Linked DNA regions of Homo sapiens: region 1 is linked to region 2. The links come from fine-mapping of genetic effects on gene expression. A gene starts in region 2. The other region holds a variant in brackets. All regions are shown on one strand. Distances are from middle to middle. Region 1 overlaps RNF13 (ring finger protein 13). Region 2 holds the start of RNF13 (ring finger protein 13).

Region 1 (13,580 bases), 42 kb before region 2:
TAAAAATGGCCAACCAGGAGCCCTCTGGGCTGCTCTGTCTACGGGGTAGCCATTTTTTTATTCCCTTATTTTCCTAATAAACTTGCTTTCACTTTACTCTATAGACTCACCCTGAATTCTTTCTTGCACGAGATCCAAGAACTCTCTCTTGGGGTCTAGATCGGGACCCCTTTCCTGTAACAAACGCTTATATCAAAAAAGCATAAAGATTTCAAATAAACCACCTAACAATGAACCTCAAGGAACTAGAAAAACAACACCAAATGCAACCCAAAATTAGTAGACAGAGAGAAAGCTCATCTATTCCAATTTTTTTGTTTACAGAAAAATACAAAATTACAAAAATACAAAAAATACAAAAATTAGCTGGCTGTGGTGGTGCATGCCTGTAGTCCCAACTACTTGGGAGGCTAAAGTAGGAGGATTGCTTGAGGCCAGGAGTGGAAGGCTGCAGTGAGCCATGATCACACCACTGCACTTCATCTTGGGAAACAGAGTGAGACTCTCTCTCTCAAAAAAACGAAACAGGAGGGTATAGGGCTGGTCAATGAACAAGACAGCTTTTGAGGTTATATCTTAAATATTCCTGCTTTTACTATTAATGGTGATGATTATTACAACAAATATAATGTCTGTTTTATACATATATATATATATATATATATCACCAAAACATCTAGAAAGAAGTTTCATGAATGTGTTGAAAGGGTTAGCCCCTTTGCACAGGCTCCAGTCTACTGTAACCATTGATAAGTACCACTTCTGCAGACAGCCAGAAAAGACACTTTTATGGAGATGCTTGTTTTTATTTTTTTTTATTTCTTAGATCACACTGGTTAAGGAGAAATATACTCCAAATGCCTAATTTTTCTTCTCTTGGTTTTGGAATTTTGGTTGTCCCATCTAAATACAATATATCTTATTAAACATCCACTATACCTTTCTTTATATCATCAGAATAACCTGATTGCAAATAAAATTTCATTTACATATAAATTAATAAATATCTTCTCCCAAAGTTTACTACTTCAAATTAATCTGCAGACATAAATAGTTTGCTAGTGACCTCGACATTAAAAGAAAAAAGGAGGGAGGGATGGCAACAAATCATAGTGTCCAGAATAAAGCTAGGAAATATGATCAATAATTTCTTTTTTATTTGAGCTGATATGGAGAGATTTAAGCAAAGGGAAATCATAAAAGATCCAGTTGACATTCTTTTTGTCTTTATCAAATTTAGTTCTCAATAACAATAGCATAATTGGCAAACATTTAATGACTATAACCTTCAGTTTTGTTTTACTTAACACAGTACTGATTTGTCAGGATTTTGATTTTATGATATTCCAGCTCTGTGAAGAAAAGGTCATCTGGTGTGTGCCTCTCATTTGGTACACACAGATAATGTGTGTTCACTCAATGGATATGATACCTTGACATTTTAGAAAACAAAATGAATGTGCGCTCTGGAGGACAATGCCTTTTAATTGATACGTTACTGTCTTGGTGCGTTTATACTGCTATAAAGGAATACCTGAGGCTGGGTAATTTGTAAAGAGGTTTATTTGGCTCATAGTTCTGCAGGCTATACAAGAAAGCACACATACACACACACACAAAAGGCATGGCACCAGCATCTGTTTCTGATGGCCTGCTTCCACTCATGCATAGTGGAAGGTGAAGGGGAGCCTGTGTGAGAAGAGATCACATGATGAAAGAGGAGAAGAGAGGGGCCAGACTCTTGAACAACTAGCTCGTACAGGAACTAAGAGTGAGAATTCATTCATTACAGCAGAAGTCACCAAGCCATTCATGAGGGATCCACTTCCCTGACCCAAACATCCTCCCATTGTGCCTTACCTCCAACACTAGGGATCAGATTTCAACATAAGGATCAAATATCCAAACTATGGTAGTTACATTCATACTAATACTACAACCACATCATCATTCTAAAAAAAAAAAAAAAAAAAAAAAAAAAAAAAATTCCAATCAAACATTGCCATTCCAGCTACATGCAACAAAATAATTTCTCTAAAAACAAGAATTCTAAGTGGATTGTGCTTACACTAGCAATCCATGTCCTCTACAATTGCCATATAATCAGTACAACCCAGTAAAGAATATTTATGCATAATTCATATTCTATAGTATTTGACAAATCCTGTAAAAACATAAAGAGGTTAAATGTAATAACTACAGAATTCTTAACAAAATCTTTGACAGCAAGAGTTCAGAAACAAATACAAAAAGTAAATCCATGAAAACTTAACAGGCATCAGAAAAATTCTCCTTTAGTATTATGAACAAATGTAGCCCGGGTGTGGTGGCTCACACCTGTAATCCCAGTACTTTGGGAGGCCAAGGCAGGCAGATCACCTGAGGTCAGGAGTTCAAGACCAGCCTAGCCAATATGGTGAAACCCTGTCTCTACTAAAAATACAAAAATTAGCCAGGCGTGGTGGTACACGCCTGTAATCCCAGCTACACAGGAAGCTGAGGCATGACAATTGCTTGAACCCAGGAGGCATAGCTTGCAGTGAGCTGAGATTGCACCATTGCACTCCAGCCTGCATGACAGAGCGAGTCTCCATCTTAAAAAATAAAAAAAAGAATCAAGACTAAGAGGAATTCTTTGGTAATGAAACATAAAACATACTGTTTTCCAAAACATAACAAACACAACCACAACAAAAAAGACCCTCACTCATTCATTACTTACCACAGCACTTGCCATTTGCAATTTGTCATTATAACTCAGTTTATAGTTGAACACAACCTGGTTAATTAAAGTTGATACAATTTGCTTATCAATCTGATTAAAGGGATCATAATGATGGAAATGGTCAGATCCTAACTAGAGGAATTATTTCAGTATTCAGAATTCAAAGAGAATGGCAACTGGCAAGAAGGGATAGTGCAGGCAAACAAAAGTAGGGAGAACAATTACAATACCTTAATAAGGGTACTGTCATTGCCATTAGTTATTCTGTTAATTTCAAAGGTGACGATTACTCATTCATTTATTTCATGAAACAGGGAATATATCAAATGTAAAATATAATGAATTATTTTATTACTTATCACTTACAGAAGAAGGGAGATATTACTAAACTCATCAAAGTGGCTGGACATTCTTTTATACCAGCAGTATATAAAAGTACCTGGTTTCACATCCTTGCCAGTTGTGGATATTGTTAGACTCCTACTTTTACTAATTTGATGAGTGTGAATTGGCATCTAGTTATAATATATACAAGGAGACATATTTAAAAGATGTTCACTAAAAAAGAAAGTAAAAAACTGGCATCTACCAGCAAATGAATGAAAAAATAAATTGTGGCATATTCATAAAATGCAGTATGCAACAGTTAAAATGAATTAGGAATATGTAATAACAAAAATTTCAAATATAGTGTTAGATGGAAAAGCAAGTTTTAAAACCACAGCAAAGAAAATTTAAATGGAAGCACAATGTTTATAGATGCATATATGGTAGAAAAAATATATATATGTATGTTTTATAACATAAATAGGAAAGATACACATAAGTTTCAGGATAATGATCATCTATAAGGAGCGAGGTAAGGGAACAGAATATGGTAGGATAAAAAGGATGTTTCAGTAGTATCTGTAATATTTTATTTCTTCTTTCAAAAAAATAGTAAAATATTAACCTCTAGGTAGCAGATATACAGGATGCTCTGTTATTCTCATACTCTAGTCTATGCTTGAAATATTTCCATTTTTAAAAAGTGAAAGCAATCTAAATGTCCAATGACACAAGGGATTGGTTACATTATGGTGTAATTTAAGTACTATAATAAATTGTATAATTTTGAATGATGATATGAATGTATAGATTTTTATATGGGAAGATATCCATGATATTGGATATGCCATCCAACATATTGCCAATTTTTTTAAGTTGCAAAATAACACATATAAGTGCATAAAATGAAGGCATGAATGTGTCTACATAAGTTCACACAGTTGTACCCAAACATCTACCATTATAATCTTTAATTGTAGAATTATGTATGATTTTCATATTCTTTTAAAACTTTATTGGCATTTAATATTTTGTATATTTATGGGGTGCGTGTGATAATTTGTTACATGCATAAAATGTGTAATGATCAAGTCAGGATACTTGAGGAACCTATTACCTTGAGTATTTATCATTTCTATGTGTTGAGAACATTTCAAGTTCTGTCTTCCAGCAACTTCAAAATATACTTAATACATTATTGCTAACTATAGTCACCCTACTCTGTTATCAAACATTAGAACTTATACCTTCTATCTAACTGCATGTTTGTACCCACTGACCAACCTTTCTTCATCTCCCCCTCTCAACCACATCTTTTTCTCACCCTCTGGTATCTATCAATCTACTCTCAACCTCCATAAGATCAACTTTTTTAGCTCCTACAAATGAGTGAGAACATGGGATATTTGTTCTTTCTCTGCCTGTATAATTCCACTTGACATAATAATCTCTAATTCCATTCATGTTGTGACAAATGACATGGTTTCATTCTTTTTTACAGCCAAATAGTATTACATTCCATATATATACTTTTTTTAATCCATTCATCTATTCATGGACAGTAGGTTGATTCCACATCTTGGCTATTGTGAATAGTGACATAATAAACATGCAAGTGCAGGTATCCCTTTGATACACTTCTTTTCCTTTGGATAAATACCCAGTGGTGGGACTGCTGGGTCCTATGGTAGTGCTATATTTAGTTCTCCCCCACCCCCTTTTAAGTTTTTTTTTTTAAATCTCCATACCGTTTTCCACAGTAGTTGTACTAATTTACATTCCCACCAACAGTGTATGAGTTCCCTCTTCTCTGAATCCTTGCCAAAATCTGTCTTTTTTTTTGTCATTTTAATGATAGTCAGCCTAACTGGATTAAGATGCTATCTCGCTGTGGTTTTGATTTACATTTCCCTGATGATTAGTGATGTTAAACATTTTTTTCATATGCCCGTTGGCCATTTGTATGTCTTCTTTTGAAAAATATCTGTTTAGATCATTTGCCCTTTTTTAAATCAGACTGTCTTTTTGCTGCTGAGATGTTCAAATTCCTTATATATTCTGGATATTAGTCCCCTGTCACATGGAGAGTTTGCAAATATCTTCTCCCATTCAACAGGTTGTCTCTTCACTCTGTTGACTCCTTTGCTGTGCAAAAGCTTTTTAGTTCAATATAGCATCATTTGTCTATTTTTCTTTTTGTTGTCTGTGCTTTTGTGATTTTAGCTGTAAAATCTTTGCCTAGTTCAATGCCCTGAAGTGTTTTCCATATGTTTTCTTCCAATAGTTTTATAGTTTGGGGGCTTTAATTCTTTAATCCATCTTGAGTTGATTTTTGTATATGGTCAGAGATGAGGGTTCAGTTTCATTCTTCTGCATATGGATATCCAATTTTCCCAGCATTCTTTATTGAAGAGACTGCCCTTTCCCCAGTGTATGTTCTTGGCACCTTTGTCAATAATCATTTGGCCATAAATATGTGAATTTACTTCTGGATCCTCTACTCTGTAGCATTGGTCTATGTGCCTGTTTTTATATCAGTACCATACTGTTTTGGTTCTTACAGCCTTGTTATATGTATGTGTGTGCATAATATGTATATATGTGTGTATACATTATGTATAAATACATTATATATACACGTTATATATATATATATATATATATATATATATTTTTTTTTTTTTTTAGATGGAGTCTCTCTCTGTTGCCCAGGCTGGGGTGCAGTGGCATGATCTCAGCTCACTGCAACCTGCATCTCCGTTCAATGATTCTCCTCAGCCTCCTGAGTAGCTGGGACTACAGGTGCCCACCACCATGCCCGGCTAATTTTGTATTTTTAGTAGAGATGGGGTTTCACCATGTTGGTCAGGCTGGTCTTGAACTCCTGACCTCAAATGCTCCACCTGCCTCGGGCTCCCCAAGTGCTGGGATTACAGGTGTGAGCCACCACACCTGGTTGCCTTGTAATATATTTTGATGTCAGGTAGTGTGATGTCTCCAGCTTTGTTCTTTTTGTTCAGGATTTCTTTGGTTATTTGAGGTCTTTTCTGGTTCCATATAAATTTTAAGATAGTTTTTTCTATTTCTGTGAAAAATGACATTGACATTTTGAAAGAAATTTCATTGAATCTGTAGACTGCTTTAGGCAGTATGGTCATTTTAATTATACCAGTTCTACTCCATGAGCCATATTCTTTTTCATATCTATATCATCTTAATTTTAATGGTGAGCATGTATCACTCTTCTAATGAGAAAAATATTTTTTCATGAGCAGAAGAATAAAAAATTAGCTATATTGAACTGAGAAAGCCACTAAGAAAATCTAGTAAAAACTACTAAGTGAACAAAAAAGATGCCCAGTAATGCAATGAGAAAATGAAGGGAGTGTGTTGATTTATGAAATCAAAAACCTGAGCCTCCTTTGACTTCCTCTGTGTGTGTGTGTCTTTATCTCCCCTCTTCTCTAAGTGATAATTTGCCATGATGAAACAATTATTTTCTAAATCAAATGAAATGCTATATTCCTGCTTCATTTAATAAATGAATAAGCAACCATTACTTTTTGAAATTAAGAGGAAAGGGTTTATTTTAGAAGCTCAAAATTCACTTCAAAAGTATTCTTTTTATACCATCTAACTATGTGCATGTGAAAATGTCCTTAGATCTTAGAATTCTTATTTCATGTATAACCAGATGGTTTGACTCTTTATTTTGACAATGCTATTTCTTTATTTATCCTTTGAAAAAGGAACTCTGACCTTTGTTTTCGTTTATAAACTGAGGGTGATACTGTAACATAAGGGTGAGGAAGTCCAGCACATTGAGCCTTAACCAGGGCTTTCTTCACATCACAAAACTGTGTAAGTGTTCTGAGAGGAAAAATACACTAAGTGGCACTGAGCTTCTTTCCTGCAAAGAAAGCAGGCAAAGGACGTAACACAAATAAAACATCCAAACAACCACATTTCTTTGCAATGTTTGCATTTTCCTTCACCAGGGAAAAAAACTCTCTTCTAATCTCAAGACTTTATATTAAACAAAATCATTTCCTGTAATAAGAATTTTGAAATTAACTGGTAAATTAACTTTCAAAGAACAAGCCTAGTTTGTGGAAAATTAACTGGTGATGATATAAGGCACTAATTTAATGAATAATGATGAGGGGAAATAAATTATACATCATATAAGAAAAACTGCTTATTTGCAACTTTGTTCTGGATAGTAGGAACAGCATAGTCTAGGACAAATCCGCATCCCATGATCTTCATCTCTTCTATCTTCTTCCTCTTCAACATAAAGAATATACCCTGACTACCAGGTTACAAAACACAGTATATATGGATCATGGCAAATCTAGCCCAAAAGCTGTGTTGCTGAAAATGAGATTTGCCATTGATAATTATACTCAGGTAATCTGACACTTGGCTTACTGATCAAAGCTTCCTTATCAGAGATAAATCTTGTTTTCAATTTTTTAACAATCATTATCTCCTCCACCTATCAAGGCACTTCCTAAAAATATAGAAACAAGAAATCTGGAGAAGCTTGTTCTCCTGAGACTGGCCCTCAATGTGTAACTAAATTATTCCAATTATACTGATAATAAAAAGTATAGCAAGAGACCTTGCTTGCTACCATTACAAATCCACATGTAAAGTCTTGACTACTGTCTTGGTCTATTTTGTGTTTCTATAACAGCACACCTGAGGCAGGTTATTTATAAAGGAAGGAGTTTTATTTAGCTCATGGTTGTGCAGGCTGTTTAAGAAGCATGGCACTGGCACCTGCTCAGCTTCTGGTGAGGGCTGCATCAAAACATGATGGAGAAGGCCAAAGGAGAAGTGGGCATATGTGAAGAGGGACCAAACCTAAGCGGTGTCCTGGCTTTATAACAACCCACTCTTGAGGGAACTAACCTATTCCGTTGGAACTAATTCCATCTAGCCAGAGAGAGAATGGCATCAAGCAATTCATGAGGGATCTGCCCCCATGACCCAAACACCTCCCACTGGGCCCCACCTTCCAACACCCCCACAATGGGGATCAAATTTCAACATGTGATTTGGTGGGGACAAAAAAACCATATCCAAACCATAGTAACTACTCAATAATGATTCTTTAATACTTGGTTATCCATTTGAAAAAGGTAAAAATAGAGTCATACGTTACATTATACAATAATAATTCTTGGCCTCCTAAGCATAGAGTGGGGGAAGGGGATGGGGAAAGGTAATCTTTACCAATTTTTTGAGGACGTAGGAAAGTATATTTATACTGCTAAGTAACATTATTTATCTTTTCAAAGACAAAACATGTTTTCCAAAAAGAACAGTTGTATAGTTCTGAATTTTGCCAAAACATATAAATATACTGTTCAAAAGAA[C/G]TGTAAACTAATTACTAATGGTACTCAAAGGTTACAAGGTCTAAAAAGGTTGTCTGGAAAAGGTAACTTCCTAAACAGCCAATTAAAATATAAAACTACAAACACAGGACTTACCTAGATACAAAAATAAAATCTTTCTTTTAAAACTTCTGTAACACTGATGTGCCATATTTTAATCCATGAAAAGATTTACATTTTTGCATTAAAGTTCAAATAGGTCAAAATTCCTTGGCTTTCTCATTTTCTTATACTTGAATAATAGTATTTTTTAAGATACAGGAGAGGACAGAAAAAGGCTTTAAATACAATTAACCTAATATTGGGGCATATATAAATAGAATGTAAACAGAATTTCAACTGATATATTATACTATAAATATCTGAAGTCTTATAAATGATTCTGATGGAATCCAGGGATGTTATAAAAGCTACAAAATATAGAACATAAATTAGACCTACAAAAACTATCTCACCTAAACTTTCTGGGCAGAGTTTAAAAGTAAGATATTTTGGGCCGGGCATGGTGGCTCACGCCTGTATCCCAGCACTTTGGGAGGCCAAGGTGGGTGGATCATGAAGTCAGAAGATTGAGACCATTCTAGCTAACACGGTGAAACCCCATCTCTACTAAAAATACAAAAAAATTAGCCGTGCGTAGTGGCGGGCGCCTGTAGTCCCAGCTACTCAGGAGGCTGAGGCAGGAGAATGGCGTGAACCCAGAAGGCCGGAGCTTGCAGTGAGCCGGGATCACACCACTGCACTCCAGCCTGGGCGACAGAGTGAGACTCCGTCTCAATAAAAAAAGTAAGATATTTTGGCCAGGTGCAGTAGCTCATGCCTACAATCCCATCACTTTAGGAGGCCGAAGCAGGAGGATTGCTTGAAGCCAGGGGTTCGCAACCAGCCTGGGAAACATAGCAAGATTCCATTCCTAAAAAAATTTAAAAATTAGCCGGGCACAGTAGCACACTCCCATAGTACTAGCTACACAGGAGCCTGAGGTGGGAGGATGGCTTGAACCCAGCAGTTGGTGGTTTCAGTGAGCTATGATCATGCCACTGCACTCCAGGCTGGGCAATAGGGCGAGACTCTGTCTCAAAAAAAAAAAAAAAAAGTATTTTTCAGCTAAGTCTCATAATAACCATATTATATCTTTAAATTAGTTATATTTTTAACGTATTTATTTAATTGGTTTTACAGACATAATACTATAGTGAGCTACCTCACTTCATTATTATCAAGTCCTTGTAAACAAATGTAAATCTTTGCATGGCTGGCATTTTAAATTCTGATTCTGGGCAATGGCAAAACCAGTCACGCAACTATAAAAGCTACCCATAATAATCCAATAATTTTGTTAGAATATTTCACTTCTCTTCTTGCCCTATATTGTCAAGTGCAAAAAGCAGACAGATATCTAACACCGTTTTTTTTTTTTTGGTCAGGCAGTGAATAAACAAACTCATCAACATATCTTTTAAATGTAAACCAAATTTATAGTAGCACAGTAATTGAGGAGCACCAATAAGATTATGCTTATCGAGAATTAATGGAGCTCTTTAAAATAAGCTTATTCAGTAGAAAAGCTCTTCAGTGAGAAGGAATAGTCTGACTCCTTATGATAGAATGAAAGAAAGGTTGCCAGATCATCATTAGTAATCAGAGAAATGCAAATTAAAACAAGATAATACTTTTGCCCATCAGATTGGCAAGAGTTAGAAAGACCGATAATATCCAGTGTTGGCAAGAGTATAGGGAGATAAGTATTCTCCTACAGTGTTAATGGGAATAAATTAGCACAGCCTTTGCAAAGGTAATTTGGCAGTATCTATGAAACTTTTAGATGTACATACCCATTGGTTTCATCAATTCTACTTCCAGACCTCTATCCTAGAGAAATAACAACTTTGGGGGAAAAAAAATACATATATATATACACACACATATATATGCACACATATATACACGTATATATATACACATATATACGTATATATGTATTTTTAATATATAAATGTAAAGATACATATATATTTTTTAATGCATAAATGTAAAAATACATATATATGTATTTTTAAAGAGGAAATTACTAATAAACTATGATCATTCATATTACAGAATACCATGCAGTGCTTAACAGGAACATACTAGATTTATAGATGCTGCTGTGGAAAGAGTTCTAAAACAGAAGAAGTAGGGGAATCAAACTGCAGAGTAGTTATTTATTTATTTTTATTTTTGAGACAAGGTCTCACTCTGTCGCCCAGGCTGGAGTGCAATGGCTTGATCGCGGCTCACTGCAACCTCACCTTCCTGGGTTCAAGCGATTCTCCCACCTCAGCTTCCCAAGTAGCTGAGACCACAGGCTTGCGCCACCATGCCCAGCTACTTTTTATATTTTTTGGTAGAGACAGGGTTTCACCATGTTGCTCAGGCTGGTCTCTTGACCTGAAGTGATCTACCCACCTTGGCCTCCCAAAGTGCTGGGACTGCAGATGTGAGCCACTGCACCCAGCCCAGCCTTGCAGGGTAATTATTGCAGTAGACATCTGTCACTCACGGTGCTCCAAATTTTCTGAACCCACTACGCATTCCACCTTCCCAAAGTAGGCTAAAACAACAAAAATAACAACAACAAAAACCCTACATTGTATTTCCCAGCCTTCCTCATAGCTAGGTATTTCACCAAAATATGTAGCAAGTAACTATGTGGCCAAAAGTCTATCACTCAGAAAAATCCAAGTGTTGGATTTGGAAGTAGACATGTAAGGAAACAGTCTGAAAAAGGGTATCTCTTCGATTAGCTTGGATGGCAGAAGAGGCCAAATGTTGTGAGGTAAAACCACAAAGGCTTCCTGATGAGAGAAAAAATAATGTGGTGTGAGGGTCCATTGGCTGCACCACTCATCTATAAAGCCAGTCCTGCAAGGTGGTTCTGGGTTTTATTCCTGTAACAGTTTAGAAACTGCCTGTCCAGGCTATGATACTCTGAACATCTTTATCCCTTTATAAATCCCTTTCTGGGTAAAACTAGCTAGAGCGGATTCCATTGTAAGAATTAAGAAACTTTTCATATATACAAATGATAACCATTTATGAATTATACATGTTCATAAGTTTATGAACAAAAAAGAATGAAAAAGCATTACATGTTCAGAAAAGGATCTGAAGGCCTGTAAAATCACTGATAATATTTAACTCTGAAGAGGGAAGTGTGACTGCTACATATAGGTAAGAAAAGAATAAAAGAAGGTGTTTCCTTTTTCTTATGTATATTACTTTTCGGTTGAAATATTTTTATGAGAAATAGTCATACAATGCTATGAATTTTTTTTTAATAATTAAAAATTCAATGCCCCTCCCAGAGGTGTCTGCCATCCTAATTAAGAATAATAGGTTTGTGGTATCTTACTAAGAAATTCTGGCTAGGCACGGTGGCTCATGCCTGAAATACCAGTACTTTGGGAGGCTAAGGTGGGCGGATCACTTGAGCCCAGGAGTTCAAGACCAGCCTGGGCAACATGGCGAAACCCCATCTCTACATAAAAATACAAAAACTAGCCGGGCATGGTGGTGCCCACTTAGTCTCAGCCACTCGGGAGGTTGAGGTGGGAGGATCACTTGAGCCCAGAAGGCGGACGTTGCAGTGAGCCAAGATTGTGCCACTGTGCTCCAGTCTGGGCAACAGAGTGAAACCCTACCTTAAAAAAAAAAAAAAAAAAAAGAGAAATTTTAAGAAAATTAGAATAAACTGAAAACATTCTATGGTACATATCCACACAACTTCATGAATTCATATAACAAAAAACTAATATTATCTTGGAATGAGAAAGGACTTTCTAACCCCCAGAGGTAGAGGAAAAAGAAGAATTTTTAACTACTTAAACAAAACTTTTGAAATCTTAAAAAAAATTAAAAGATAAACGAAAAACTGAAGAAGGGATAATCTGAAGCATATATGGCAAACAATAAATTGATACTTCCAATATATAAAGAACTCTTACAAAGCACAAGGACACTTTCATTTCAAATTGGGCAAAGAGCATTAATAGTCCATTCTCTCTCTCTCTCTCTCTCTCTCTCTCTCTCTCTCTCTCTCTCTCCCTCTCTCTCTCTCACACACACAGCAAAAAATATGTTTAAGTTCATTAGATTTTTTAAAATCAAATTAGCAAAAGTTTGATAATATCTAGTATTTAAGAGGGTATAGGGAAAAGGACAGTCTCAGATGTTATTGATAGAATTCTAAATCGTTCCAAACTTTTTGGAGGAAGAACTGAAAATACAGAACAAAACTTTAAACATTCATGCCACAAAGCAATTCTACATTTGGAAATGTATCCTATGGAGATAAATGGATGAATACACAAAGACAAAAACATTCATTGTAGCACTGTAATAGTAAAAACTAGACAACCTAAATATCCACTATGAAAAACTAAAGCAATGTTCAAAATCCATACTATTTCATGATATTGCAAAACCATGCAGCTGTTACAATTAATAATGTAAATCCTTACCTATCAGCATGAAAAAACATGATCAAAACATACAATTAAAAGAAAAAGGCAGGTAACCAAATAGCATGTTTCTATTAGTGTTAAATACAGATTTACTGTATATGAAAGCATTTACATATATATGTAAATGTGTGTGTACATATATATATGTACACACACATACATACATCTACAAACACACGCATAGCACATATCCTAAAAAAACAGGTCTGAAATGTGATATACCAAAATGTTAAACACAGCTAGTTCAGAATAATACAATCCTAGGTGATTTTCACTTTCTTTCTGATATCTTTTGAATAATCTGACCCTTTACAAATGACTATATATAGGCTTTATAATAATAAATAGTAAGAAATGATTTCATTCTTTAAATAATAAACAATAAAAATCACCTTATTAAATACCTTGTGTCTTTACAATGTATTACCAACTGTCTTACCTTTAAACCTTCAGCTGGAAGTCTATAACCAAATCTTGCAGGGAGGTCATCAAATGTCTGAGATGCATTTTCAAAGTTATACTAAAAATAAAATTTTAAATATTCAAGTTAAGACCAATTTATATATAACATTAAAAACAAAGACTTATTTAATTATGTATAATTATTATTTTGACAATTCT
Region 2 (16,621 bases):
CTGTTTTCAATTTTTTAGAGAAAAGGAATTATTAAACTATAAGAGAGTAACACTGAGGGAGACATTACAAAGGGACAAACTTGGAAGAGAGCCTGAGGCTGAAATTCAGTTTTCACTGGAGCAGGTGTGGTTGCAGCACACCAGGTAACAGAGAATCTCACTGGGTTGACCAGACCAGAGCTGGTCCAAGGTTGCCCGGTAAACAATAAACAGCCCACTGGGGTGCTGATGGGTAGGTGTGCAGAGGCAGTCAGGGCACAGCTGCAGGCACCAGGCCTGGAATGTACAACATCTGCATCAAGAGGGTTGCTGGAGGCGGGGCATGGTGGCTCATACCTGTAATCCCAACACTCCGGGAGGCCGAGGCAGGCGGATCACCTGAGGTCAGGAGTTTGAGACCAGCCTGGACAACATGGTGAAACCCTGTCTCTACTAAAAATACAAAAATTAGCCAGGCGTGGTGGTGCCTGTAATCCCGGCTACTTAGGAGGCTGAATCACTTGAGCCCAGGAGGCAGAGGTTACAGTGAGCAGAGAATGTGCCACTGCACTCCAGCCTGGGCAACAGAGCAAGACTAAGCCTTAAAAAAAAAAAAGGGTTGCTGGAGCCTGGGCAACATAGCTAGACTCTGTCTCTACAAAAAATACAAAAATTAGCCAGGTGTGGTGGCATGCACCTATAGTCCCAGCTACTGAGAAGGCTAAGGCAGAAGGATTGCTTGAGCCCAGGATTTGAGGCTGCAGTGAGCTATGATCGCCAGTGCACTCCAGCCTGAGCAACACGGAAAGACTTTGTATCTTAAAAAAAAAAAAAAAATCAGGAAAAATAACTAACAGGTACTAGGCTTAATACGTGGGTGATGAAATAATCTAGTCAGCAAACTCCCATGACACAAGTTTACCTATATAACAAACCTGCACATGTACTCCTGAACTTAAAATAAGTTAAATTAAAAAAAAAAAAAAGAGGATGACCTCTGACCTAGTTCTTTTGGAGCTTTTTGATACAGACATACTTACAAATGGACATTAACTAGACATAATCATATAATCCTGTATGTGTTTATCAATCTACCTAACTATATTTGTGTGTATATCTTTAAAAAAAAAAAGCCCCAAAGGAAAACTAGGACAGAGGTCATTTCCTTTCACAAAAAAAAACCATATATTTTTTCTAGTCTAGGATATTATTCATGTATGTTTTTAAATGAAAATGTTTTACATTATACAACAATTTGATTGTTATACTTATCAGCTTCTAGAGGCTGCCAACATCCTTGGCTTGTAGCCTCTTCTTCCATCTTCAAAGCCAGCAATGGCAGATTAATTCCTTCTTATAGCACATTATTCCAAACTCCTCTTCTGCCTCCCTCTTCCATTTTTAAGGACACTTGTGATTACACTGGGCCCACACAGATAATCTTCCCAACCCGAGGTCCTTAATCACATCTGCAAAGTTCCTTTTCTCATACAAGGTAACATATTCACAGATTCCAAGTATTATGATATGGACATCTTTGGGCAGTCATTATTCTGCCTACCACGGTAATTATCACATTTCTTGGCAACATTCTAATTTATTCATTTACTTATTTATATCAGTGTGGAATCACAGATTACTGTTTTATTCAATGGGTTATAATCTGCTATTGTATTATCATTTTGATGTCCAATTGTTTGGCCAATGGAGGCTTATTCAAGCTAGCTTTTGTGTCTTTTTGATATGTTCCCAACATTCTTGAGCACCTCCTTGTTTTCTGGCACAAGATTTTCCAGTCCTGCCTTGTACTTTTCCTGCCCCAGCCCTGAAATCAGCCATTTCTTTAAAGAGAATATTGTTGTTTATAGGAATATACAGCATCAGAGAAACAACTTTCTCTCAAATAACAAAAAACATAAAGGTCTTTGTATTGTTTTTACAACTTTAACTCCGTAGCTACTTCAAAATTTTAACATGTTATTTTATTTTAATAATATAATGTCTTCCAAAGTTCAAAGTAATCACTTGTATCATATTGTATTATGATTTGTATGCTTTTTTACTTGAAATTATAACAAAGATTTTCCCTTGTTGTTCAAACTCTTCATAACCACTATGTTAACAGCTACTTTGTACTGCTTTATATGGCTGACACATGACTTTGTCTATTTTCTTGCTGTACAACATTGAATTGAACTCTTACTATTACAAATAATTTTCCAATGAATATAAATCTTTCCATACTTCTGATTATCTTCTTGGGATAGATTCCTTGACATGGAATCACTACACCAAAGAAACATTTTAAGACTTCATACATATTGCCCAATTGCTTTCCAGAAAAGAACATTCCTATTTATATTTCCAAATAAATGTGCATTTCATTGTATCGATTCTCCTTTTTTGGTCTTTTGTTGGTGTTAGGTGAAATTATAAATGACAAAAATAGCTAATATTTATCAAATGCTTACTACATATCTGGCTAAGTCCTTAATATACATTATTTATTTTAATCCTCACAACTCTATAGTAGGTTCCACTGTCTTTCCATAAATATAGGAATAAAAACTTAGATCAACAGCATAAAGTGCTTAAAACAGTGCCTAACACACAGCAAGCACTTTATAAATATTTCCTCTTATTTTTAAGTGTTTTAAGTGTTCAGTTACTTGCCCAGTAATACTTACCTCTTAAATAGTGAAGCTAGGATTCAATTAAAAGTCTGTGTCATGAAATACTGCCCTTCCCAAATCATCCAAGTATTGCATAAATTTGCATTTCTTTAATTACTTATGAGGTTGAAATTGTTCACATTTCTATTCATAATGAAATTTTAAGGCTATTTGGAAACTTCAAGAAAAAACAGAAAAACTAATGTATATTAATGGTAATTTACATATTCAAATTAGCTTCTGTTCTAATTTTATCTTTATTATTCATGGATCTCTGTACCAGACTCTGCGATAAATATGGTTTATCCCTGAGGCTTTCTGTGTAACATCAAAATTAAGTTGCAAAATAATTGTAACTTTGAAAATGAATTACGTATTGACACTTCTCTCCAAACCTAAAGAAAATGAAATGATCTACCTTCTTTAATAATGACCAAATATATGTAACGTGATACCAGAAATGGAATAGCCCAAGTATAGTAAGATAATAGTTCAACACTATGCTAAAAACATATTTCATAGTTTTCACATTCAGGGAAATCAGACATCTTACAGATCAAGTTCTTTAGTGTTCCACTTTCCACTTTCTTATTTACCCACGTGATTCAGCTTGCACATGGAAAAAAGAAAGTAAATGACTGTTAAAGGCAATAAATGTTACACACAAAATCCATTGTGTTTCTACATACCAGCAATGAACTATCCAAAAATTAAATTAAGAAAAACTTCCATGTATAATAGTATCCAAATGAATACAATACCCAGGAATAAATATAACAAAGGAGGTGAGAGACTTGTACACCGAAAACTATAAAACACAAAAACAATGCTGAAGGATATCAAACACACATCCAGGTACTCAAAGACTTAACATTATTAAGATGGCAATACTACCCAAAGCAATCTACAGATTCAATATATTACCTATCAAAATTTCTATGGCCTTTTATGCAGAAATGGAAAAGCTGATTCTCAAATTCATATGGAATTGCAAGGGGCCCTAAACAGGCCAAACAATTTTTAAAAAGAAGAACAAAGCTGGAGAACTCACATTTCCCAATTTCAAAACCTTACCACAAAGCTACAGTAATCAAAACAACATGGCACTGGCATAGTGATAGATATATAGACCAAAGGAGTAGAATTGAGCATCCAAAAATAAACTGATACATCTATAGCCAATTGATTTTAAAGATGCCAAAGACCATTCAATGGCAAAAGAACAGTGTCTTCAACAAGTGGTGCCGGGACAACTATTCACATGCAAGACAATGAAGTTGGAATTTATACCATATACAACAATTAACACAAAATGAATCAGTGACCTAAATATAAGGAGTAAAATTATAAAACTCTTGGAAGAAAACATAGGGTTAATCTTCATGGCCTGGGATTTGGAAATGGATTCTTGATATGACACCAAAAGCATGGGTCAAATAAATAAAATGGACTTCATCAAAATTCAAAACATTTATCTATCAAAGGACATTATCAAAAAATTGAAAAAAAAAATCCACATAATGGAAGAAAACATTTGCACATTATATATTTGATAATGAACAGTCTAGTATCTGGAGTATATAAAAACACAACTCAATACAAAAACACCAACAATGTAGTTTTTTAAAAGGGCAAAGAACTTGAATAGACATTTCTCTAAAGCAGATACACACATGGCCAACAAGCACATGAAAAGATGCTTAAAATCATTAGTAATCTGGGAAACGCAAATCAAAACCACAGTGAGATACCACTTCATACCCATAAGGATGGCAATTATAATTTCTTAAAAACAGAAAATAAGTGTAGGCAAGGATGTAGGGAAATTGGAACCCTCACACATTGCCAGTGGGAATGTAAAATGGTTTAGCTACTGTGGAAAGCAGTTTGGCAGGTCCTCAAAAAGCTAAACAAAATTACCATAAGACCCAGCATTCCATTCTTGGTATATACCCGAAAAAGTGAAAACAGGTTCTCAAATAAATCCTTGGACACAAATATTCACAGCAACATATTCATAATAACTAAAAGGTGGAAACAACCCAAATATCCATCGATGGATAAATGGATAAACAAACTGATATATAGACATGGAAAGGAATATTCTTCTGACATGGAAAGGAATATTCTTCTGCTATGAAAAGGAAAGAAGTACTGATATATGCTACATGTGGGTAAACCTTGAAAACATTTTGCTAAGTGAAAGAAGCCAGGGATAAAAACTCAAATATTGAAAATTCAATTTATATAAAATATCCAGAATAAGTAAATCCATAAAAACAGAAAACAGATGTGGTTGCCATGAGCTAGGGGCATCAGGGAATGACTGCTTAATAGGTATGAGATTTTACTTCAAAGTGATAAAAATGTTTTGAAACTAGACAGAAGTGATGGTTGCACAACACTGCAAAGGTACTAAATGCCACTGAACTATTGCTTTAAAATGGTTAATTACGTGAATTTTTACCTCAATTTTTTTTCCAAAAAAAGCAATTAACATTTATAATCCATGTTGGATAAATGTGGAAATTATAAGCAGCTCTTCCTCTTTGAGGGTCAAAAGAGTAAATGACAAACATAGTAAGTATGCAAATAAAGTATTCTTCAACATTTAATGAGGTGTTTCACATCTAAATAAAGTAGATGTTTCTCCCTCATGACTTCATTCAGAAATATTCATTTATCACCAGCTCCTCACTAGGATTATTTCCCGGTGGAAATTCATTCCCTCTATAAAGTTTACCTGGATATTTCTATCATTAGAAACAGAGCCCGGGCAGGGAGTGGTGACTCACGCCTGTAATCCCAGCACTTTGGGAAGCTGAGGAGGGAGGATTGCTTGGGGCCAGGAGTTTGAGACCATACCAGGTGACAGAAAAAGACGGTCTCTTTAAAAAAACAAAAAAAAAAGAAAGAAAGAAACTGAGCCTGAACTACATTCACTTTCAATCAATTCAAGGTCAACGTATTTCTAACTCCTTAAAAATGATTCTAAGCCAAATTCTTGTAGCTGACCAAGAGCTCTCTTACATCAAAGCGCAAAACATCCCAAAATTTCAGTTTTCTTTTCAGTTTACATTAATGTGGCAATAAACATTTAAATGTTTTAATGTCTGAATATTTCATAATTATTAATATTTAATAATTATTAACTCTATAACCACAAAATTGACAATGTTCCTCAGACTTTATTTCAAAGTTAAAAAGACTGATTTCCTCAGGAAGATCTACATCGTTGAAACAACTAGAAATAACAAATACCTTCCTCAGGGAACACCTTCTCTTAAAAGGAATATAAAGGTAGATATAAAAATGCCTGATTATGTTACTGCCTGCATAAAATTCCTTAACAGATTAAGCAGTTTTCAGAATACAGCTCAGAACTAAACTGTGGTTTAGCACAAAGTTCTTCATAAACTGGCTCGTCTCTGTATATTTAGCTTAGTCCCTTGCCATTCCTCCAGTCTTTTTCTCTGTAACCATGAGCACTTTCTCTTCTCCCAGACTCTCATTATATGCTTCTCTATGCCACCAAAATGCAACACAACTAAATGGTCTGTCACTCCCATTATTCCTTAAGCTCCTTAAAGTTAGGAGCTATACATTTTCTAATTCTGTATACAATACCTAGCATCTAGCACAATATCAGAGGCAAGTGACTGTTGTATAAATTAAAGTATGAAAGTGAGTATTATGATCCATTATTAAGGTCTAAAATACTATGGCTTATTTTTCCTTTACATAATGGCAATGGGGGAAACTATATATTAGGTAATATTTTGCTCTATTTTAAAAAATTACAATGTAATCTTACCGGTAAATAGCATCAACAAATTTTGTAGACATCTTTTCTTAAACATTAGTTTATTAACTAAGAGTATATATTTAGCTTGATGCTTATTCAATGGAAGCTCATGCTTGGCTCTATATTATCTACGTTAGTGAAGTGAAACATTAGTGCAAGAGATATTTTACAAGAAGTCGTAAAAACAGATTTTAACTGGACAATTCCAACTACTTCATTTACAGGTGAGGAAATGAACTGAGAGGTTAAGATATTTATGCAAAATCACCCAGCTAATTAGTGGGAATGTTGGGTGACACCCAGACTCCCATAATGTTGATGCTTTCAGCTACAATATAACTTTATTCCTATTCCAACCTCATAGATAAGCCAGGGGATTCTCTTTTTATTTTTATCTTATTTTATTTTTTTGAGACAGAGTCACGCTCTGTCACCCAGGCTGGAGTACAGTGCCGCGGTCTTGGCTCACTGCAACCTCCGCCTCCCAGGTACAAGCAATTCTCCTGCCTCAGCCTCTCAAGTAACTGGGATTACATGAGCACGCCACCACATCTGGCTAATTTCTGTATTTTAGTACAAATGGGGTTTTACCATGTTGCCCAGGCTGGCCTCGAACTCTGGTCTCAAGTGATCTGCCCACCTCAGCCTCCCAAAGTGCTGGGATTACAGACATGAGCCACAGTGCCCAGCCGGATTCTCTTCTTCTCACCCTCAATCTAGGGGGTATATGGGTCCTTAATACATGCCACATTTAACTGACTCCTTTAATCTTTAAGATGTAGCCTCTGCCTTAACACCTTCTCCCTGTAATAAACATTTGATGAGTACCTACGTTTGTTGAGCATTAAACACATCTAAGCCATTCCACTGGGAGGAAGGGGAAAAGGGAGAGACAAATGCGAATAAGAAAGACATGGTCCCTTCCTTCAAATGCTCTGCAAAATTAGTTACAATCTGGTATAGTATTCATTATTACCATCTGCTTAAATAGGTACAAATACATAGTACGAGAAAAATCTAATTACCGTCTATTATGAAAATGCACCTTATTTCTCCCATTAGCAGATAAGCTCCATGCAGGCAAGGATTTTTCTCTTTAGAACAGTGCCTGACAAAGAAGGTACTCAACAAATATTTGAGTGAATAAATGCTACAGAAAAACCCCTAAGTAGTAGGATCCAAGTAATGTTTCCAAAAATGGTATGACAAGAAAAGTAAACCTTCTTCTCATGCTCAACAACATTTTTCTGTTGGTTTACTGAGAACTTGACAGGAAACTGAAAATAGTTGAGATGGATATATTTTACTACTTAATTCAACATCATGCTCTACCCAATTGTACCAAACCCTAGAAAACCTTCCAAGAAAGGAAACCTACAGTCCTTCTATGACTTAGTCCTGAGCCCTTTTTCAAGTACAAAGGGTCTCCAGATGTTTTCCTTTTTTTCTTATAATAGGTTCTGGGATCTCTGTGTTTGCCCCCCACTTGTGAAGATAATAATACTGGTAACAAAAACATCTCAATTACTATCTATCATGTACCAGACCCTTTTCATATATTAACTCAGTATTTCAAAACAACTCTCAGAATTGGTATTGTCATCAACATGGTTTTACAGAATGGGAAAAATGGTAAGCCTCTTATCCTTTGAGTGTCTTCTTCCACAATCCTGGCTATAAGTAAAATACAATCTCATTAGCTGCACCCTGACTTTCATTGTTGCCCCCCATAACAAGCACACAGAGTCTCTGATTCTAAAGGTTTTGCTATTAACCAATTCAAGGTAACAAAGACAGGATAATAAAAATAACAAATCTGGAGATGTTCAAATGTTCAACAATTCAGCATTCAACATATGTTTATAAATGCCTGGTACCACACAAAAATCAGACTCTCAAAATTCTTACGGTGAGAATCCCTAGCCTCCAATTTACTAGCTATTTTTTGAATAAATGGGAGCCTTGCTAGGTCTAAAAGTTTTTCCTCCCCACTACCTTACCTCCTGATCTCCCAGGACACGAATCAAAATACACTAAAGGGAAAAATAATGGGTGCATCTTCATTGAGAAATCTGTACTTGTGAGTAATTTAAGGAGTCACATCCCTCTTGTGAAACTCTGACCCACAGAGGAGTGGTTACTTTTAGGTCATTTCCTTACAATGTAAGCATTTGTTCTCTTCCCTTTTCATAGAATACACAGAACTTCCAGTTTTCATTCTACATTTCCAAACGTCTGAACAACTCCTCAGCTCCAAAAGTAAACTCCCTATCATCCTCTCTCCTCCTAAATCTCCTTCCACCAAAACCTGTTCTTCATGATAATATCCTTATTTCTGTTAATAACATCACTATCCTCCCAAAAATTTGTCCTAGGCCTATACTCTGGTCAGTTCCCAGTGTCAATGTCATTATAATGTCAACATCTTTCAAATCTATACCTTCACTACGATCATCACTTCTTGCCTCAACTACTATAATTAAATTGCATGGTATTCCTACTTCTAGGCTTCCACTCTTCCATTGGACCTGTTCACAAATTATTATCCATAAAGAGAGTTTCTTCTTAACTAAAAATCATATATAAAATCTTTAGTCTGACATTTAAGAATCTCCATAATCTGTATCCATCTATCTTTACCAGTCTGGTCCTTAAACATATATCCTTACCAAATGTATTCTGCTTTTCCTATCTCTATACCTTTGCTTGGGCAGTGTCCTTATGTGGAACTTTTTTTTTTCCACCCTCCTTCAACTGCTAACAATCTTTCAAATGACCTCATCCTCAATGAAAAAAAAAAAAAGGCTAAGGCATATAATTTACTAAACATATACGCCATCTGATTGCTTCACAAATTATCTGAATCCCCACAAAAACAAGTAAGGAAGGAGTTAAGGAAATTGAGGAGGAGCTTCCCCAAGGTCACCAGCAAGTACGAATCCACAATAGCCCCACAGCATTCCATATTTTTTAATGAAATAAGACACAAAAGAGACAGACGTTCTGTAGTCAGAATACCTGTGATCAAATTCCAGCTACTCCACCAGCTACTTGTGTGAACTCAGAAGTTATGTATCTGTGATGCCTTAATTCCCCCACTTCCCACTTAGAAAATGGGGATAAGACAGGCATGATGTATCACACCTGTAATCCCAGCATTTTGGAAGGCTGAAGCAGGTGGATGACTTGAACCCTAAAGTTTCATACCAGACTGAGCAACATAATGAGACCTTGTCTCTACAAAAAAAAAAAAAAAATTTAATTAGCCAGGCATGGGGGTTTATGACTGTAGTCCCAGCTACTTGTCGGGCTAAGATAGGAGGATCCCTTGAGCACGGGAGGTCGAGGGTGCAGTGAGCCATAATTGCTCCAGCCTGGGCAACAGAGCAAGACCCTGTCCCAAAAAAAAATAAAAAGGAAACAACTTACTATCTACCACATCAATGACTGTAAGAACCACCTGAGATATTATAAAGCACTTAGAATTGTATTTGGCTCATATTAACCAATCAATATTAGCTACATTACTGTTTTGTTGTTGTTGATATACTATGCTATATAAACTTTGACAATACCAATCATATGCTGTGTTGTTCCCAAATCAACTTTTGTGTAATGTAAAAGATTCATAAAAGTTTAATATTTTACTTTTATATATGCTCAATAAATATCTATAGAATACATACATTTTTGAACAATGACTCACCAGTATGCTTTATTAAAAGGAATTCGCTTCTAATTTTGTTTCCTCTTTTGGGAAAAGTAACAATGCTTACCAACTTTCTTCCCCTTTTTATGTCATGTGAAACTATCATATGCAATGCCATATGGTAAACATGACAAATGGTGCAAAACACTGTTTTGACTGAAACTCATTTGCCTCCTGCTAAACATCAATTCCCAGATTTAAAAATATTGTTATTTAAATGCCAACCATTTCTAGGTCACACCTACATGAAGTAAGCAAAACATACCATGATAGTTGACCAAACTATTTCATTTCATACATCTCTTATGGCAAGAACTATAAGGCATAAAATGCCTTCCTAGCCAACTTAACTCAAAGACATAAATCTATCCCTTTAGTCATACCCTCAGGCCTACCCTCACTTAGCTAAAGTTAGTGCCTGTAAAAGTTCTGATAAATCTACGTTATTCTGGAATGCAGAAAAATATCAAGGGAAGAAAGCTGAATGCTAGCAACAATTTATGCCCCTCCAAAATTATTGAGAAAATTAGCTTTATACAAGCATAGATGAGAACTTATCCCAAACCCTTCAGTATTATACCTCTCAAACCAAGATTCTGTCTATGATTTGCATTACACATAGAGACAAGATGTCAAGCTGCCTAGCTTCAAACAAAGGCAGAGGTTAAAAAAAAAAAAACTAATAAAACAGTTCTCATTCCCTACATAGAGAAAAATAACTGTGCCTCTCTCCAACAGTTTCCAACAAAACAAAAAAAAATTATGTAATAGACAAATTTTGTTTCATTTAATCCTCATAACAACTCATTTCTTATTTACGGAAAATGTCACAGAATTAGTAAATGGCAGAGCTGAACCCAGCTTGACTCCCAAATTTGGAATTTAGTATTTTGAAACATTTGTTTTTGCCATAATCCATAATACACTTTACATTTCCATCTTCCTCTTGACACACACATACTGTTAAAAACTGAAACAAAAGCTTCTTGCCATAATATTTACTTTTATTCCATACAATGTCCTCTGGTATTTTTTCTTTCTTTATAAAGCTTATGTCAATGTACTAAATTGATTCTAAAATCTATTAATGAATCCTTATGGGCCCTGCACTACAGCACTGCACTACACTTCCTGCACTACAGCACTGCACTACACTTCTTACCTCCTGTTTAAAGTTCTTTTTAATTGCTATCACTGTCCAGTTTTGTTACTTCGAGATGGAGCTAATGTCCACCCATTAAAAAACTGTGCTTAAATAGCATAAACTCTTGAAAGCCCTACCTTAAATCTTGAATTGATCTGTTTCTCCAGAAGAACTCTTTGGAGGCACAGCCACCTTACTTATTTATATTGTATCAAAAACTGCAGATGTTCTCCTTGGAGAACAAACACATCATTGTTGAAAGGAATGCATCAGTTTTCACTGTTTCTGCTGCATCACTGACGAACAGTAATAGCCGGGCAGGTTTGGGGCAACAAGAGAGGACCCGAGCAGCTGCCCACGGTGCTGAAACTGATGATGAAACGACAGTTTTGGAAATTTACTATTTACTATTGTCAGATTAGGACAAAATAGAGGAATTTACCAGACACTGGCAGAGAAAACTGAGTGGCCGCCACCAAAGTTGCATGAGTGCTTCCGGGATACTGCTGTTTGGCTTCGATGTCTGCCCACTCTCTCTTTCTCTCTGGGACAAAGTTATTTAATAAGTGCAAGTCAAGTCAAGTCAAGCATACAGGCAGAGCTGCTGACTGACCGTAGTATCTGGCCCTAGCAGGGGTTAAGTCCCAAACCTGCAATCTGAGCTTCCAGGGAAAGAAAAAGGGGGTGGGGGTAAAAGAGAGGAAGTGACTGCCCTCCTTCTATTCAGAGACAAAACAGCCCCCTCAACTAAAGTCAAGCGATGTGCCCGAGGACGTTGCGGCAGGTACTTGACCAAGAAAAGCCTTCCAAACATGTTTTCCAGGCAGGCTCTTGCAGCCTCAAGAAGGGAATGAGAGAAGCAAAACCGGTAACTCAACTTTGGACACACACAAACTCGCGGAATGAGAGTGCAGGGGAGACTCGGTCCCCCGAGGGCAAGGCTATTTTATTCCTTTTGCAAAAAGCCTAATTGACTTCTCACCCAGCTCTAGAGGAGCAGCAAAGACCTCAGCAGCAGGGCCGACTCCGAGCTCGAGGGCCAACAAGCGGGGTATGTTCTCTGGGCCGCTCGATAACGAGCTGCCCGGCTGCCGCGAAGCCGGACAGGGTCTTACCTTGAAGTCCGGCCCCCGCAACACAAACAGTCTTGCCAGCCGCGTCGCTGCGGGAGAAGTCCCTACCCTGATTTCATGACTGAATATCCGCACCGACCCCCACAGCCCGGAGTACTAGCAGGGACGACAACACCTAGGCGAAGCGGAAGTCCCGCCCCACGCGCCTCATTGGTCCGCACCCAAAGGCACAGAAAACCCACTGGGCAACATGGTTGCCTGTTAAGGCTCTTTCCCACTCTCACGCGGAGTCTCGCTACTTGCTCTAGCCCGGCTCGGAGAAATGCCCAGTTTGCGAGTCTCGTTCTTGGCCGCGTGATCCGTCTTCCCTGGAAGGGAAGAGCAGGGTGGGGCAGGCGTCTGCGGAACTGGAGCGCGGCTGAAGAAGCTGCTCTTGGCAGAGGAAGGGGCAGGCTGGCAAAGTGGATTGGCTGTGGGCGCCTGCCGCTAACCATGTGCCCCTAGAAACGGAGACCGTAGGGTCTGGAGGGCGCGGGACCGAGCGGGCAGGGCCGGTCGGTCTGATCTGCTCCGGCTGTTGGGACAGAGTAGCCCAAGATTCGGCTGCCGGGCTGCCCCCGGGCGGGCCTGGCCCTGGCGCTGACGCGTCTCTTCCCTGCACACTACACTCACCCGACCTACTAAAGAGGCGAGGGCGAGGCCTCATCCGCCCGCCTTCCGTACCGTGCCCAGTCTGAGATCAGAGTGGGTGGGGACCGTGGCCACACCTTAAAGTAGGGCTCAAATTGTTAGAGATGCGAGCGGCCCGAGGTCTGAACGCCAGTCCCCTGAGGCCTGGCTCGGATCCACGCTGGCATCAGCACTCTGGGCCTGACACGCGCCATCCCCGGGGCTTAGCAAAAGTCAAACCATGTGATTCAGGCCCTAGGTCAGCCTTTTAAAACCCTTGCCTCCTTTTGATGAACCAAAAATCTCCTCCCCTGCCGCCCTTCTGATAAGCCTTCCTTTCTGGTTGTCTCAATCTTAAACCAGTCGAAACTTAAATTACCGGATTGTACCATCCACATTGATTAATCATTGCCAACTCGCCACCTTACAAAAGCAGTGTGACTTAGGCAAATATTACAGAGTCCTGAAAGAAATGTCAGGAGACATAGAATCAGGCACTACTTCTGCTTCAAATAATAAGGCACCCTTAATAAGGCCTTTACAGGCTTCAACTCCTTCAACATCATCTTTTAAAAATGGTGGCGAGGAGGCTATCACACAGAGTATTAGTAGAATACCATTGGATGTAACTTGTCACTTTGATTGCTTGGAGAGCCCTGAGTAGGTGGGACACAGCAATGGGGAAAAGACTCTTTCCTTATTGTGTATCCTTTTGTGCCTTTTGAATTTTGAACCTTGCAAATATTACCTACTCAAATAAAATTCAAATACAAGAAATTTAAGATCAAATTTTAAAAAATTAAATAAAAGCTATCAAAGGTACTTTCCTCTTCTGTGTATCCTATGAGTATTCTATGTAGTCTTAACTTTTCATTGGTTGCAAAGACATTCAATACTTAAATCACAATTCTGCCTTTAAGAAAGTCATAAATAAAAGTCAGCATTGGGAATATTACTAAGAAGACTAATTAGTATAAACACATTTATAATATCTCTATAAGCATTTTTTTCATTAAATTATCCCAAATTGGTATATTAAATCAGATTTCTTGCATAACATCAAAATAAATTTTTTTAGGCCGGGTGCGGTGGCTCATGCCTGTAATCCCAGCACTTTGGGAGGCCAAGTCAGGCGGATCACTTGAGGTCAGGAGTTCAAGACCACACTGGCCAACATGGTGAAACCTCGTCTCTACTAAAAATACAAAATTAGCCGGGCATTGTGGTGCACACCTGTAATCCCAGCTACTTGGGAAGCTGAGGCAGGAGAATCGCTTGAACATGGGAGGCAGAGGTTACAGTGAGCTGAGATCCCACCACTGCACTCGGGCATAGGCAACAGAGCAAGATTCCATCTCCAAAAAAAAAAAAAAAAATTAAGTCCACAGAGAGGAGCTTTGGGTTTTGTTGTTTTATTTTTATTTATTTTAGAGACAAGGTCTCACTCTGTTGCCCAGGCTGGAGTGCAGTGGTGAGATCATGTCTCACTGCAGTCCAGAACTCCTGGGCTCAAGTAATCCTCCCACCTCAACCTCTGGAGTAGCTAGGATTACAGGCATGTGCCACCAGGCCTGGCTAATTTTTTTATTTTTTTTAGCCTTACAGTCTGGCTATGTTGCCCAGGCAGGTCTCAAACTCCTGGCCTCAAAGGATCTTCTTGCCTCGGTCTCCCAAAGTGCTAGGATTACAGGCATGAGTCACCACGCTCAGACAAAGAGCTTTGCTTATTCCTTAAAGGCACCTTGAGTACAGAATATTTTACTTCTGGTTTCAACCTGCTCTTCAGATAACAATAGGTATAGTTCTCTCAACTATGAACAAGGTAATGTGTCATTTGTACTGCATTTAGGCTACACTCTGCAAAAACATTTACTCTCCCAACCTGTGCTGAAAAAGGTAAATTGGAAAAAAATATATTGGAAAAATGTATTAATCTTTCTAAAGCAGATTAGACAGTAAGATTGACAGATATCATAATTACAATTTTCAAGAACATGAAGGGTTAATAAGGCACGTGATACTAATATACCACTAATTATCTTTTTAAAAATCAAAATGTGCTTTTAGGGTGTTGTATCTAACAGGTTTTTTTTTTAAACCTTCCTAAAAAGTACAAACAGATAGCACGTAAAAGTAATTGTAGAATCTCCTGCTTCCAAAATATTGTAAGGCAACAACAACAAAAAAAGACAGATACCCAATTATGTAATTGTCTGAAATGGCTTAGAAATAGTTCTCCCTAAATACCAGAAAGAATGCAGGCTGTCTCCTTAAGCACAGAGATTAATCAGAAACCTTAAACAATTCTATATATTATCATATTTAGAAACAGAAAAAAAGTAATTTTAGAATCAGAAAAAAGGTATTTTCATTTTGAAAACAAAATAAAATTATTACTATTAAAAGAAAGAATAAGATCCATAAAGAATTTATATGTGTATGAAATAAGCAATTTTGAAAAGTACCAAACAGAATTTCTACAAATAGCATCAGGGAACTTTTAGCCAAAGATTCTAAAAGATTCTAATTTCTTTGCCAAGTTCCAAATTAATGAATGGGTTCATTAAGTAAGATAAAAAGTGAAAAGTTCAGAACCTAAGGCGATACATATCAGTCAGAGGGTTTTTCAACAAAGTTTATCCAATTTATTTTCAAGGAGTTGAGAAAGATCAGGCAAAAAGAGGTGTGCTTAATGTTCAATGCCTTAAAAATGATCTAGTCATTGTTTTATGTGGGATGAGTTACTTCTCTGTATATCTGAGATGACCAACATGCAAATTCAACTTTTCCTTTGCACACTGAGAACCAGTTTTCCTCTGTTTGCTAACAAAGGAATTACAAAATAAGCATGCAAAAAGTCATATGACATAATGCAATATAAAGATGGAAGAAGTCATTGGGGTGTGAACTGACATAATCACATTAGCAAACAATTTGAAATTGTCTAGGGAGGGTGAAAAAGAAAATTTTCTATGACATAGCAATTCAATCCAAGGAATATACCCTAAAGAAACACAAAATAAATTCATATTTAGGCACATTGTAATAAAATTTAAAGAGGATCAAAGAAAAATAAAACGTTTTAAACAAACAAAAAAAGATAAAATACTTACAAAGGAGTGACAGCTGATAGCTGAGTTGTTTTTTTTTTTTCCCGAGATGGAGTCTTGCTCTGTCGCCCAGGCTGGAGTGCGGTGGTGCGATCTCGGCTCACTGCAAGCTCCGCCTCCCGGCTTCATGCCATTCTCCTGCCTCAGCCTCCCGAGTAGCTGGGACTACAGGCACCCGCCACCATGCCCGGCTAATTTTTTGTATTTTTAGTAGAGACGGGGTTTCACCGTGTTAGCCAGGATGGTCTCGATCTCCTGACCTCGTGATCCTCCTGCCTCAGCCTCCCAAAGTGCTTGGATTACAGGCCTGAGCCACCGCACCCGGCCCAGACTTCTTAGTAGCTACAAAAGAAACTAAAAGTGAGTTAAATAATATCTTCAAATGCTAAAATAAAATAGTTACAACTGTCAGTTTAGAATTATATGCCTAGTTAAGCTGTCATTTAAGAGTGAGGGCAAA

Evidence for each region.
Region 1: its variant is fine-mapped to the expression of RNF13 in whole blood (INTERVAL, PIP above 0.99).

The regions. Positions count from the first base shown.
Region 1 is chr3:149,852,415-149,865,994 of GRCh38, reverse strand. RNF13 (ring finger protein 13) reads right to left here. Exons shown (of 10, transcript NM_183381.3): 3 at 13,399-13,479. Among named protein-coding and RNA genes, the nearest start is that of RNF13, 46 kb to the right of the region's middle. The variant C/G (reference allele first, on the strand shown) is at 8,437.
Region 2 is chr3:149,809,157-149,825,777 of GRCh38, reverse strand. RNF13 (ring finger protein 13) reads right to left here and starts at 12,563. Exons shown (of 10, transcript NM_183381.3): 1 at 12,425-12,563. RefSeq lists enhancers at 12,720-12,829, 12,695-13,206 and a silencer at 13,040-13,189.